Linked DNA regions of Homo sapiens. The protein of the gene in region 2 purifies or fractionates together with the protein of the main gene of each other region. This does not show direct contact. Each region holds a gene or a part of one and is shown on either strand. Other genes may lie near its edges. The genes, in order: MCCC2, DNAJC4 and CACTIN.

The links.
Region 1: the proteins of DNAJC4 (region 2) and MCCC2 purify together in Homo sapiens (affinity purification with mass spectrometry, with the first as the bait; one large-scale study listed by BioGRID). This does not show direct contact.
Region 3: the proteins of DNAJC4 (region 2) and CACTIN purify together in Homo sapiens (affinity purification with mass spectrometry, with the first as the bait; one large-scale study listed by BioGRID). This does not show direct contact.

What each region holds. Positions count from the first base shown.
Region 1 is NC_000005.10:71,600,695-71,604,339, reverse strand, and holds part of MCCC2 (methylcrotonoyl-CoA carboxylase beta chain, mitochondrial isoform 1 precursor), read right to left. Parts: intron 1,835-3,645; coding exon 1,707-1,834; intron 1-1,706. UniProt on the Homo sapiens protein: Carboxyltransferase subunit of the 3-methylcrotonyl-CoA carboxylase, an enzyme that catalyzes the conversion of 3-methylcrotonyl-CoA to 3-methylglutaconyl-CoA, a critical step for leucine and isovaleric acid catabolism.
Region 2 is NC_000011.10:64,228,928-64,232,672, forward strand, and holds the start of DNAJC4 (dnaJ homolog subfamily C member 4), read left to right. Parts: upstream 1-1,620; 5' UTR 1,621-1,927; coding exon 1,928-2,013; intron 2,014-2,240; exon of another isoform or gene 2,241-2,443; intron 2,444-2,943; coding exon 2,944-3,037; intron 3,038-3,502; coding exon 3,503-3,687; intron 3,688-3,745. Other genes in the region: uridine diphosphate glucose pyrophosphatase NUDT22, read left to right, coding at 320-417, 551-644, 923-1,063.
Region 3 is NC_000019.10:3,616,760-3,620,404, reverse strand, and holds part of CACTIN (splicing factor Cactin), read left to right. Parts: intron 1-132; coding exon 133-278; intron 279-1,162; coding exon 1,163-1,325; intron 1,326-1,415; coding exon 1,416-1,530; intron 1,531-2,489; coding exon of another isoform or gene 2,490-2,575; exon of another isoform or gene 2,576-3,645. UniProt on the Homo sapiens protein: Plays a role in pre-mRNA splicing by facilitating excision of a subset of introns. Required for the splicing of CDCA5/Sororin, a regulator of sister chromatid cohesion. Involved in the regulation of innate immune response.

The DNA.
Region 1 (3,645 bases), on a different chromosome or scaffold from region 2:
AGAAACATAAGCATCTCTATGAACTAAATGTGCTACGCAGAGGGAAACTTGTATCAATGACAGCATCAGTTCTTAATCACATTCACAAAAAACTTGCCCTGTCTTTCTAAACTGTTATAGAGCCTCGTTCTCCAAACCCCCAATGCAGCCAAAAGGATTCATTGCCCCAAACCCATCAGGCTTTCCCACCTCTGTGCAAAATTCTTCTCGAAATGGTTAGAACCTTCTCTCCTTTGAGGACCAGCTAAAGCCCCAGAAACATCATAAATTCTTAAAGAGTTAAGGTGGAAAAGTATCTTTCCTTCTTCTAAACCAATACAAAAGCCATCCACAGAATTCATATAATAATTTATACATATTGCCTTCTGATACTGTTTTCATTGCAGATTGGAGTGGTGGGTACACAGGTCAGTTGCGTTCAAAGCAGAGCTCATGACTTCACAGCTGTGTGATTATAGGTGTGTTTCCTAGCCATCCTATGCCCCGGTTTCCTTACCCACGAAATGAAGATAAAAAAAGGAGCCATATCATATATTAGGATGACTTGAAAAATGTATAGAAAGCACTTAGTTCAGAATCTGCAACCATTAAGTCTTTTGTTGGTTGCACATTATATGCTGTGTCCAATTCATTATGAGCTCGCTGAAGACAGAGACAACAAAATCCTCCTCACTGTATCCCCTATAAAGACCAGCACAGCACCTACAAGCAGCTGGGCCTCATTTGCTGTTTTCTCTACGTGCAGAGCAGTTCGTATTGTGAGTTAATCAGGTAAATTCAACTTCACAGAAAAACACAAAACAAAAAATACCTCTACATCAGTACCCGTTCAAATACCTGCATACATGAACAACGTATGTTGGAATTTTATCAGACTAACCCAGTATCAGGAAAGGCCCATTTTTTTTTTTTTTTTTTTTTTTTGAGACAGTCTCTCTCTCTGTCGCCCAGGCTGGAGTACAGTGGCACGATTTCAGCTCACTGCAAGCTCCGCCTCCCAGGTTCACACCATTCTCCTGCCTCAGCCTCCCAAGTAGCTGGGACTACAGCTGCCTGCCACCACGCTCGGCTAATTTTTTGTATTTTTTTTTAGTAGAGACGAGGTTTCAGTGTGTTAGCCAGGATGGTCTCCATCTCCTGACCTCATGATCCGCCTGCCTCGGCCTCCCAAAGTGCTGGGATTACAGGCGTGAGCCACCGCGCCCGGAGGAAAGGCCCATTTTAAACTGCTTTGCTTTCAGGTTCTTTGATTTAAATGTGTTTTAATTTCAAATATAAGTTTACTTTCACTGGAAATTAAATTTACTTTAAATTACATCTGCTCAAATTATATAATACTTGCACATTTAACTCAGTACCTGGCACTCAAGAGATCTATAAATACTTGCTACTATTTTTTTCATAGTATGATCCATAAAGTTAAAAGAAAAACAGGATCTAGAGAACAAAAAAAAAAAACCACACAACACATAGAGAAAAAAACTGGCATGCGTCAAAATGTATGAGTATTATGCACTAGTACTATGAACAGTTCTTGTTTACTTTCCCCCAGAGTTTTCAGCAAAGAACCTGTGTTTCCTTTATAATTACAGGAGAAATCAACAGGTTTATAAAATACCCATCCCAAATGTAATACATACAGCCTTCCAAACTATCTTGCATTTTACCAGCTAATAATAGTTTATTTTACCACTCTGGTGACTTGCCTAAGTAGATGCAGGGGAGCCTGTTTTGCATGGCAATTTCTTGGGCCCGTAATTGTTTTTTCACAGTCACTGGGTAGTAGGCACCTCCTTTGACGGTGGCATCATTGGCAATAATCATGCATTCTACTCTGAAAGGCAGAAATTTCATTGGAGAGAGAATTTAAGAGATTTCTTCAAAACTAATTACACTCATTACAAGATACCCCAATACAACCTTCAACTTCTAGTACGTATCACTATTAACATCCATTAGCAGACAGCAGTCTTAGGATATAAATGCAAACTTTAATCACAGTTCACATATTAATTTATATAATACAAAACAATTACTTCTAACAAGTTTATAAACTCACACTTGGTTTTTGAAAAGTCATCAGTCCTAGATTAGTAATAAAAAACTAACAACCTAAGCCTTGTGTCATAATGGTTCTTTGAATGAAAAGGTCCTAATAAGATGAAAATAATAATGAAAAAAAAAATCCAAGTCTCAAGGGAAAAGAATTCCCTCATAATAAACCTTCAAAGTCTCCTTTTAGGAGGGTATTTTGCAAAAATGAAAACTGACCTTTAGTACTAAGATTTATTTTTTGTATTCTTGTTCTTCAACATTACAGCCCCATGGTTTTCTACAAAACTAAATGTAGTCTAAAATATAACGTTCATCTTAACTGAAGTCAGAATGAATGCAAACTTTAATATACTAAAAACACATGAAAGGTATCCTGAGTCATCAACAGTGCCCTTTCTCACCAAAACCAGTTTATTGGGTATGAGTCACAAAGAGCAGGGCGGCCAACAACCACAGCTGGTTGGGGAAACTGTACAGCACTGGCAGGAAACCTTAAGGTCAGAGGTACCCTTGAAATCTGAGATGACAACAGTGTGCTCTTTACAAAATTCAATTTTCTTTATGTTTCTGATGTTTGTGTTACCTCACTTTATGCTGCCTACAACTCTAAAGAGTGAGTCATTAAATCCCTGCTGAAAATAGAGAACGGCAACTGAACACCCAGCACAGGGTAGTGTTGAGCTTCTCATACTAGGATATGTGGCCAGCAGGGCTCGCCACAAGACAAACAGGACTCTTCTTTGAGCATCAATTTTATTCCCTAGGTCATATAAAACCTTTTTCTGCACTGCAATGAACATTTTATAGAGTAGAATGCAAACTTTTAATGATTTAACATTAAACGAACTAGACTTCAAAGGAAATGTAGGCTTCTCATAGGTTGCTGGGCCATAACCTCACACTCCAGAGTGTGTGCTCATACTTCCTACCACTGGGGGTGCTACGCTAGAAAGTTTAAGAAGCTCTGGTACTGGAAAGAGGCCAGGCTGTGAAGTCAGACAAAGTTAGACTGAAATTCTGGCTCTGCCAACTTGTTAGTTATGTGACCATGGACAAGGGACATAGCCATATCTGCTTGTCTATTAAAGGTCACAGACTTGTTACAGAATGAGAAATCAAATTGGCCCACAAAAATACTAGATTGCATTTCTATTGGTTTTGCCTACCCAGCATCTATTATTTTGGCAACAAAACTAAACCTTCTTTCAGAAACTGCCTCTTATCTTTAATCCAGGTGGCTCAAGTAGGACTGACCCCAGAGCCTGCCTTAAAGGGGGGCACAGGGACCAGGTCTTTCTACCCAGAGTTCCCACTGAGGCTCGGCAATGGGACAGGCTCTAAGCCTAAGCAGATCTTGCCTTCCACTGCAGCTGCTAAACTTATAGAATATAAACCAGGAACTGCCTATGACCATCACTGCCTCTGGATTTAGAGAGGCTGCCTAGAAACAAAGCTGACACACAGCAAGTCAGGGCCAGGAGTAGAAAACAGCCTGGGACCTAGTAATACCTAAGACCATTTGAGCTCCCAGATACAGCCATGCCCAGACTCACCAGATAAGAGAATCAATATATCCTCTTTTTTGCTTAA
Region 2 (3,745 bases):
TGCCACTGTACTCCAGCCTGGGCGACAGAGCGAGACTCCATCTCAAAAAAAGAAAAAAAGAAAAAGGAGTAAGTGGGAGTCCCAGTCACTAAATTGACTTCTCTTGGGTGACCTTGGGCAACGTGTTCAATCTCTCTGGTTTTGGTGTACCTGTAAAACAAACATGCCCATCATCTGACATTCTGTAATGCTGGGTCCTTGATCTACAAGCTATAAAATGCTGTACACAGGTAACAGGCGGTTTTTCATTGAGACGGGCAGGGATGTGGGCAGTGGCATTGATAGGTGGGACCTCCCCCCACCCCACCCTCCACCGCAGGTGAACCTGCCGCTGCTCACCCTGAGCCAGCCCCTGCTGTTGGGCATCGCCCGAAATGAGACCAGTGCTGGCCGAGCCAGTGCCGAGTTCTATGTCCAGTGAGTAGGCTCGGGTACATGATCCTGGGTCTTGGGAAGGTGGGTGGTGAGGAGTGGGCTGAGGCAGCTGTGGCTCCACAGGTACCCCGCAGGGGCTGGTCACCCACTAAGCCACCCTTGTGTTCTTGTCCAGGTGCAGCCTGACTTCTGAGCAGGTGAGGAAGCACTACCTGAGTGGGGGACCCGAGGCCCACGAGTCTACAGGAATCTTCTTTGTGGAGACACAGGTGCAGAGTGACAAACCATCTTGCTTGGAGGCCAGGGCTGGGGCCTGCAGAGGCCTGGCAATGCATATCTTGTAGGGGAGGTGTTGGCTGGGTCACAATTCCCTCCAGAGTCACAAGATTTGCCCTCAGTGCAAGGGAAAGGTCCAGGGACATGTTCAGCCCCTTAACATGCCTCCCTAAGGACAGTGCAGAGGTCTCTGAGGCTCAGGAATTCTGGGCACAGCCCTGGCAGGAGAAGTGGCAAGCTTGAATGCCTGGGTCTCGTTGTCTCCCCACAGAACGTGCAGAGATTGCTCGAGACGGAGATGTGGGCTGAACTCTGCCCCTCGGCCAAAGGCGCCATCATCCTCTACAACCGGGTTCAGGGAAGTCCCACTGGAGCGGCCCTAGGGTCCCCAGCCCTACTCCCGCCGCTCTGAAAATAATAAACGACTTTATTCTTGGATTCCGTTGGCATCTGCTATTTCTGTAACAGAGAGGAGCAATGGGCCCTGAGTGTGTAAGGCAGGACAAGTGACTTGGGAAAAAAAAAAAAAAAAACCCGCCCAGCCTGTGTCCCCCTCTGCAAGCAGGGGATAAGAACTGTGCCTCCCTTTCTTTGCTGGCTCCAGAGAGGCTCCGGGGCGGAAGCAGCTCCGTAAGATATACCTCGCTGCAGAGGGGAGCAACAGCGGAACGGAGACACGGTGGCCGGGCCGAAAACGTCACAAAGCCGCAGAGAGCGGGCTCTGTCCCGCCCGCTCCCCAGGTGGGCGCCCGCGCCTGTCCAGCGAGTCCGCAGGCTGGGGGACCGGAGGCACCAAAGGCCAATAGACATGTAGGGGCGGGGTCTCCACCGATTTTTTTTTTTTTCCTGACAGGTGGACGTGGTCTTGGCATCCACGCCAATGAGAATGTGAGGGCGGGGCCTGAATAGACGCAGGAAATGGCGACGGCCGCGGGTCTGTGAGCAGCGGGGGCGGGGCCTGGTTGTGGCCCCTCCTTCTCCCGTCCCCAAGTTCCCTGGGTGGGAACGGGGTCTTGGGGTCCCTGGCTGGGTGGCCAGACCCCGAAGCCAGCGCTGGGAAGGGCTGCGGATGCCCGGGTCAGAGGAAGGGGCAGGTCCAAGGACACGCGGGTCTGGTCCTGGGCAAGAACCGCCCCCTCTCCGGGCCTGCTTCAGTCTTCCTTTGCAGAACAACGGGCCAGGCCCCTTCCCTCTGCCCCCGGGTGCTTGAAGTCTAGCCCCATCCTGGTCCAATGCGCTCTTGGTAGCCTCCTTTCCCAGCTGCCCGCCCGCCGCCATGCCGCCCTTACTGCCCCTGCGCCTGTGCCGGCTGTGGCCCCGCAACCCTCCCTCCCGGCTCCTCGGAGCGGCCGCCGGGCAGCGGTGAGTTGGGCGCGGGGGGCCGGCCCGGTTGTTCAATGGGTTTCTGTTTGCCCTACGTGCTGAGTTAGTTGTGGTCTCTACTCCGTGTCAGGAGGCTCCCAGGTTTGTCTCAGGTAACCCTCGCCTTCCCTGCTGAGGATCAGAGATAGAGAAGACCCCCAAGGTCATACACCGATTTAAGCGGCAGAGGAGGAAGTTTGAGTCCAGGTCAAACCCAACGCTCTTACCACAGCTCTAGTGGTTTCCAAGCATCGCTGTATCACTGTGCATAACCCTCTGTGGGGGGTGGGAGATGGGGAGGTGTCGGGTACAAAATCCAGATTCCTGGGCTCTGCTCTGGAGATTCTGAACTGGAGGAATCAATTGGGTGGGGGTCAGGAATCAGTTTCTTTCTCTTTTTCCTTTTTTTTTTTTTTTTTTGAGATGGAGTTTCGCTCGTTGCCCAGGCTGGAGTGCAATGGAGCAATCTCGGCTCACCACAACCTCCGCCTCCCGGGTTCAAGCGATTCTCCTGCCTCAGCCTCCCGAGTAGCTGGGATTACGGGCATGCACCACCACGCCCGGCTAATTTTGTATTTTTAGGAGAGACAGGGTTTCTCCATGTTAGTCAGGCTGGTCTTGAACTCCCGACCTCAGGTGATCCGCCCTCCTCGGCCTCCCAAAATGCTGGATTACAGGCGTGAGCCACCGCGCCTGTCCAGGAATCAGTTTTTTCCAACAAGTTTTTGGACTCCACTTTGAGAAATCCTGACCTGCACTATGCCTGAAACACTCCAAAGGGGGTGCTGATCTGGAGACAGATCTGTCCTGGGACCTGTTTCAGCCCTGTCAGCTCCTGGTGGCTGAGTTGAAGGGTGTGGCCCAGAAGGCAGGGCAGAGCTAGCTTCTGGGTTCCTTCAGCCCCTGCAAGGTTTGGGACTCTGTCCACAGGTCCAGACCCAGTACTTATTATGAACTGTTGGGGGTGCATCCTGGTGCCAGCACTGAGGAAGTTAAACGAGCTTTCTTCTCCAAGTCCAAAGAGGTACCCGTACCCCTGAGGTGGGGAGGGGGAGCAGGAACTTTGAGCCAGTGGGGGTGTGCTTCAAATTCCCAGGAGTAGACCAGCATCTCTGGCGGGTGCCACATTTTTTCAGCCCTCATAGGGAGTGGCAGGTGCTCAATGGTAGGGGAAAGGCTGTGGGCAGGAGCCAGGGGTCCTGTCTGATGGGCTGGGCTTGGTTTTCTTGACCTGCCTGCCTGCTCTTGAGAAACCTGGACCAGGGCATATGGTGAATGCAGGGGGCTGGCAGGTGGGGAGGGCTTGAACACAGGAGGAAGCAGGAGTCCATGCTCTCTGGCCTTCTGAGGAGTGGGCAGGCCTGAGTGAGGGTCACTGACCAGGCAGGGCCTCTGGGTATGACTGGAGCCCTGGTGGGTGGATGTCATCAGCATGGGTCCTGGGGAGGGACAGGCAAAGGGAGATAAGGGGAGTCCTGCCCCACCCCAGCTGCACCCAGACCGGGACCCTGGGAACCCAAGCCTGCACAGCCGCTTTGTGGAGCTGAGCGAGGCATACCGTGTGCTCAGCCGTGAGCAGAGCCGCCGCAGCTATGATGACCAGCTCCGCTCAGGTAGTCCCCCAAAGTCTCCACGAACCACAGTCCATGACAAGTCTGCCCACCAAACACACAGGTACAGTAATCCTGCCCTCAGCTTGCCCCACCCCCAGGTCTCTTGGGTAGTCTCATTT
Region 3 (3,645 bases), on a different chromosome or scaffold from region 2:
CCAGGCATCTCCGGACCAATCCCTGTGCCCAGGGCAGCTGGGTGAAGGCTGGGCCCCCATCATCACAGCCCCTCCCCCCGCAGCCCTGCAGACCGCACGGTCCCCGCTGCCCTCAGCCTCCTGTGCCTGCAGGTGAAGCAGCTGCGGCTGGAGCGGGAGCGGGAGAAGGCCATGCGCGAGCAGGAGCTGGAGATGCTGCAGCGCGAGAAGGAGGCAGAGCACTTCAAGACATGGGAGGAGCAGGAGGACAACTTCCACCTCCAGCAGGCCAAGCTGCGGTGCGCTGGGGCCTCCCCCTCCCTCCGACCCAGACTTGGAGCCAGGGCCGGGCACTGGCTGTCACTCTGGAAGCCACTGCTCTCCCACCCTTCAGGGTCCCACACGGCACTTCCTGGGACCTTCCCTTCCTGACCCCTTCCCGGGCGGCAAGGCTTCTGTCTCCTGCCCTCCCCTGCTGGGCAGGGTGCAGAGGAGACGGGCCCAGGTGAACGGCACCCCACGCATGCTGGACGCCAGTCCTGCACTGACTGCAGTTGTCCCTCCCACACTCCACCCAGGAGGGTGGCACCCCCATCCGCCTGGTTTACAGACAAGCTGAGGCTCCGGGGTGTCCCTGCTTGCCTTGGGCCCCGTGGCGGGTGACATCAGGCTCCTCCCAGCTCGGGCCTCCCTGGTGACGGGTTCCCTTGGGTTGGACCAGGGCCCGCCTGCAACGCGTACCCCCCTGCAGGCCCAGAACAGAAACCCGGCTCTCTGCCCCGAGTGGTCTGCCTGGGGGAGGAGGTGGTTGCAAGGCAGTGACTACTCTGGTCCCCCAGCCTGCCTCTGCTTCAGCTCCTCCACTCTTCCCCATCACAGCCCACATAGAAGCCGCCATCCTGGGCACATCCCAGAGGCCCTCCAGGAAGCCCCTCCCACCTGGCCCACCTCCGGGTCCACGCTGCTTGCACTTTGTCTGCACTGCTGGCCTGCGCCCTTTGGCTGACCCGGCTCACTCTACCTTATGCCTCCTCCTCCTCCTCCTCCAGGAAGCCTTCCCTGACCACCCCCAACGGGTCAGGCCCCTCCTCGGCTCCCACTGGTGTGGTCACCCCAAGGGCAGGGTCTTTAGCATGGAGGGCACAGCCCAGGCTCTGATGCCACCTTCCCCTGCTCCCCACAGTTCCAAGATCCGCATCCGGGACGGGCGGGCCAAGCCCATCGACCTGCTGGCCAAGTACATCAGCGCTGAGGATGACGATCTGGCCGTGGAGATGCATGAGCCCTACACGTTCCTCAACGGCCTCACCGTGGCCGACATGGAGGACCTGCTGGAGGATATCCAGGTACCCAGCCCCACCCGATGCTCCTCTGACCTGCACCCTCACCCCCACCCCAGCCACACCCGTGTCCTGACCCCTGCCCCCTGCCCCCAGGTCTACATGGAGCTGGAGCAGGGCAAGAACGCCGACTTCTGGCGGGACATGACCACCATCACCGAGGACGAGATCTCCAAGCTCCGCAAGCTGGAGGCCTCGGGCAAGGGGCCAGGTAACGGCGGGCATGGGCCTGGGCTCCAGGGGAGCTGCGGGGGCTACAGTGTTCACCCAGAAGCCTCAGACTTGCTGTGGGGCCTGGTGCTCTCTGCAGGCCTCGGTTTCCCCAACTGGGGCCTCCCCTTCTGGGCCGAGCCACCAGGGGGCAGCAGCGGGCAGTAGGCCCTGGGAGGGATGAGTGGGGCGGGCCTCTGTCTGGGGTGCAGGGCCAGCAGCGTCCAGACCCAGCGTCCCGTTAACGCTGACTCGGCGGTGCCGGCCTTATGGGAGCCACGGGGCTTTCCGCTCAGGTTTCAGTGCTCTCAGTGGCTCTGCCTGTTTGACAGCAAGTCTCGCTCCACCTGGCCTGAAGGCCGTGCAGCCCAGCTTCAGGGCGCTACCTGTCCCGTGCGTCAGTTCGTGCCCCTCCAACCTGATGGGCTTTTAAAATCACGTTTCCCCCCCCTCCGTGTGGTTGCACACACATGGTCACCGGGGATGCTCTAAAGCGTCTACCCTGAGCACTGCGGACATGCGGGCTGGGCCGTTCCCTAGGGTGGGGCCGTCCTGGACACTGCTGGGTGCTGAGCAACGTCCCTGGCCTCCACCCAGGGTCAGGAGCACCCCTAGTCCTGACAACCGCAGATGTCCCCAGACGTTGCCCAGAGTCCCCTGGGGGCAGAATTGCCCTAGATGAGACCCCCCCCCCCCCCGGTCTAAAAGCCAACCACAGCAGCCCTGCCCCCTCCCCGCCAAAATCCACGCCCCAGCGGCTGCTGTAACAGTGCCTGGCTCTCATGGGCCACGCATCCCTGTCGATAGACCCGGTCCTTCCCCTGCCCTCCCTCTCAGGCCTTGGGTGCCATCATGGTGGCCGAGGATCCCAGGAGGCTGGGTCAGTGTCATTTGCAGCCCTCAGCGTGGTCTGTGGCAGGTCCTTCCTAGGAAAGAGCCTGTGGCTTTCCTCTTTTTCAGTGGAGCTTTGTGTTCCCCGGAGGTGGAGTTCACTCAGCCATCCTGTCCCTCCAGTGGTCTCCTCCGTGGGGCACATTCTCCCGTAACCTCAGAGAGGCAGGGCAGTTCTCCAGCATCAGAGGTGTGTCCGTTAAGGGTCTTGGTGTGCTCCTGCTGGTGGCAGCGGGGCTGGGCAAAGACTTCTGGGTGCAGTACATTTTCCTTCAGAAGCCGCAGACCCTACCCACCGGCTGCAGGAAGCCTGGGAGGCGTTTCCAGCGTTGCCCTAGGCCCCGCCCTCTCCTGTAAGACTGGGAGGCGTTTCCAGCGTTGCCCTGGGCCCGGCCTCTCCTATAAGCCTGGGAGGCGTTTCCAGCGTGCCCCACTGCCCTAGGCCCCGGCCTCTCCCATCCCTTCCATGGCCTTCTGCCTCCACCACGTCGCTCAGCCCTCCTTTCCCCTCACGCGTTACAGTTGGGGACCCCAGGTGGCTTTGGTGTCTTCCGAGGGAGTTTGTTTCTGATTCTCCTTTCAACATGGTTTCCAGGAGTAGGGAACCGAGGGGTCTTGACTTTGCTGTCCCCCTGGAGACCCACAGAGCCCCTGTCCTGGATCTTCTTAAATTAATTGGGGTTTTCCTTTTACTTTTCATTTTTCAGAGACAAGGTCTCGCTCTGTCGCCCAGGCGAGAGTTGAGTGGCGCGATCAAGGCTCACTGTAGCCTCGACTTCCTGGGTTCAGGTGATCCTCCCACCTCAGCCTCCCTAGAAGCTGGGACTACAGGCGCTCACCATCACACCCAGCTATTTTATTTTTTGAGAAGGAGTCTCACTCTGTCACCAGGCTGGAGTGCAGTGGTGCGATCTCTGCTCACTGTGACCTCTGCCTCCCAGATTCAAGCGATTCTCCTGCCTCAGCTGCCCAAGTAGCTGGGATTACAGACGCGCGCCATCACGCCCAGCTAATTTTTGTATTTTTAAGGAGACAGGGTTTCACCATGTTGGCCAGGATGGTCTCAATCTCTTGACCTCATGATCCTCCCACCTCAGCCTCCCAAAGTGCTGGGATTACAGAAGTGAGCCACTGTGCCCAGCCACTTCTGAAAATTTTTTGTAGAGATGGGGTCTCACTGTGTTGCCCAGGCTAGTCTTGAACTCCTGGCCTCAAGCAATCCTCC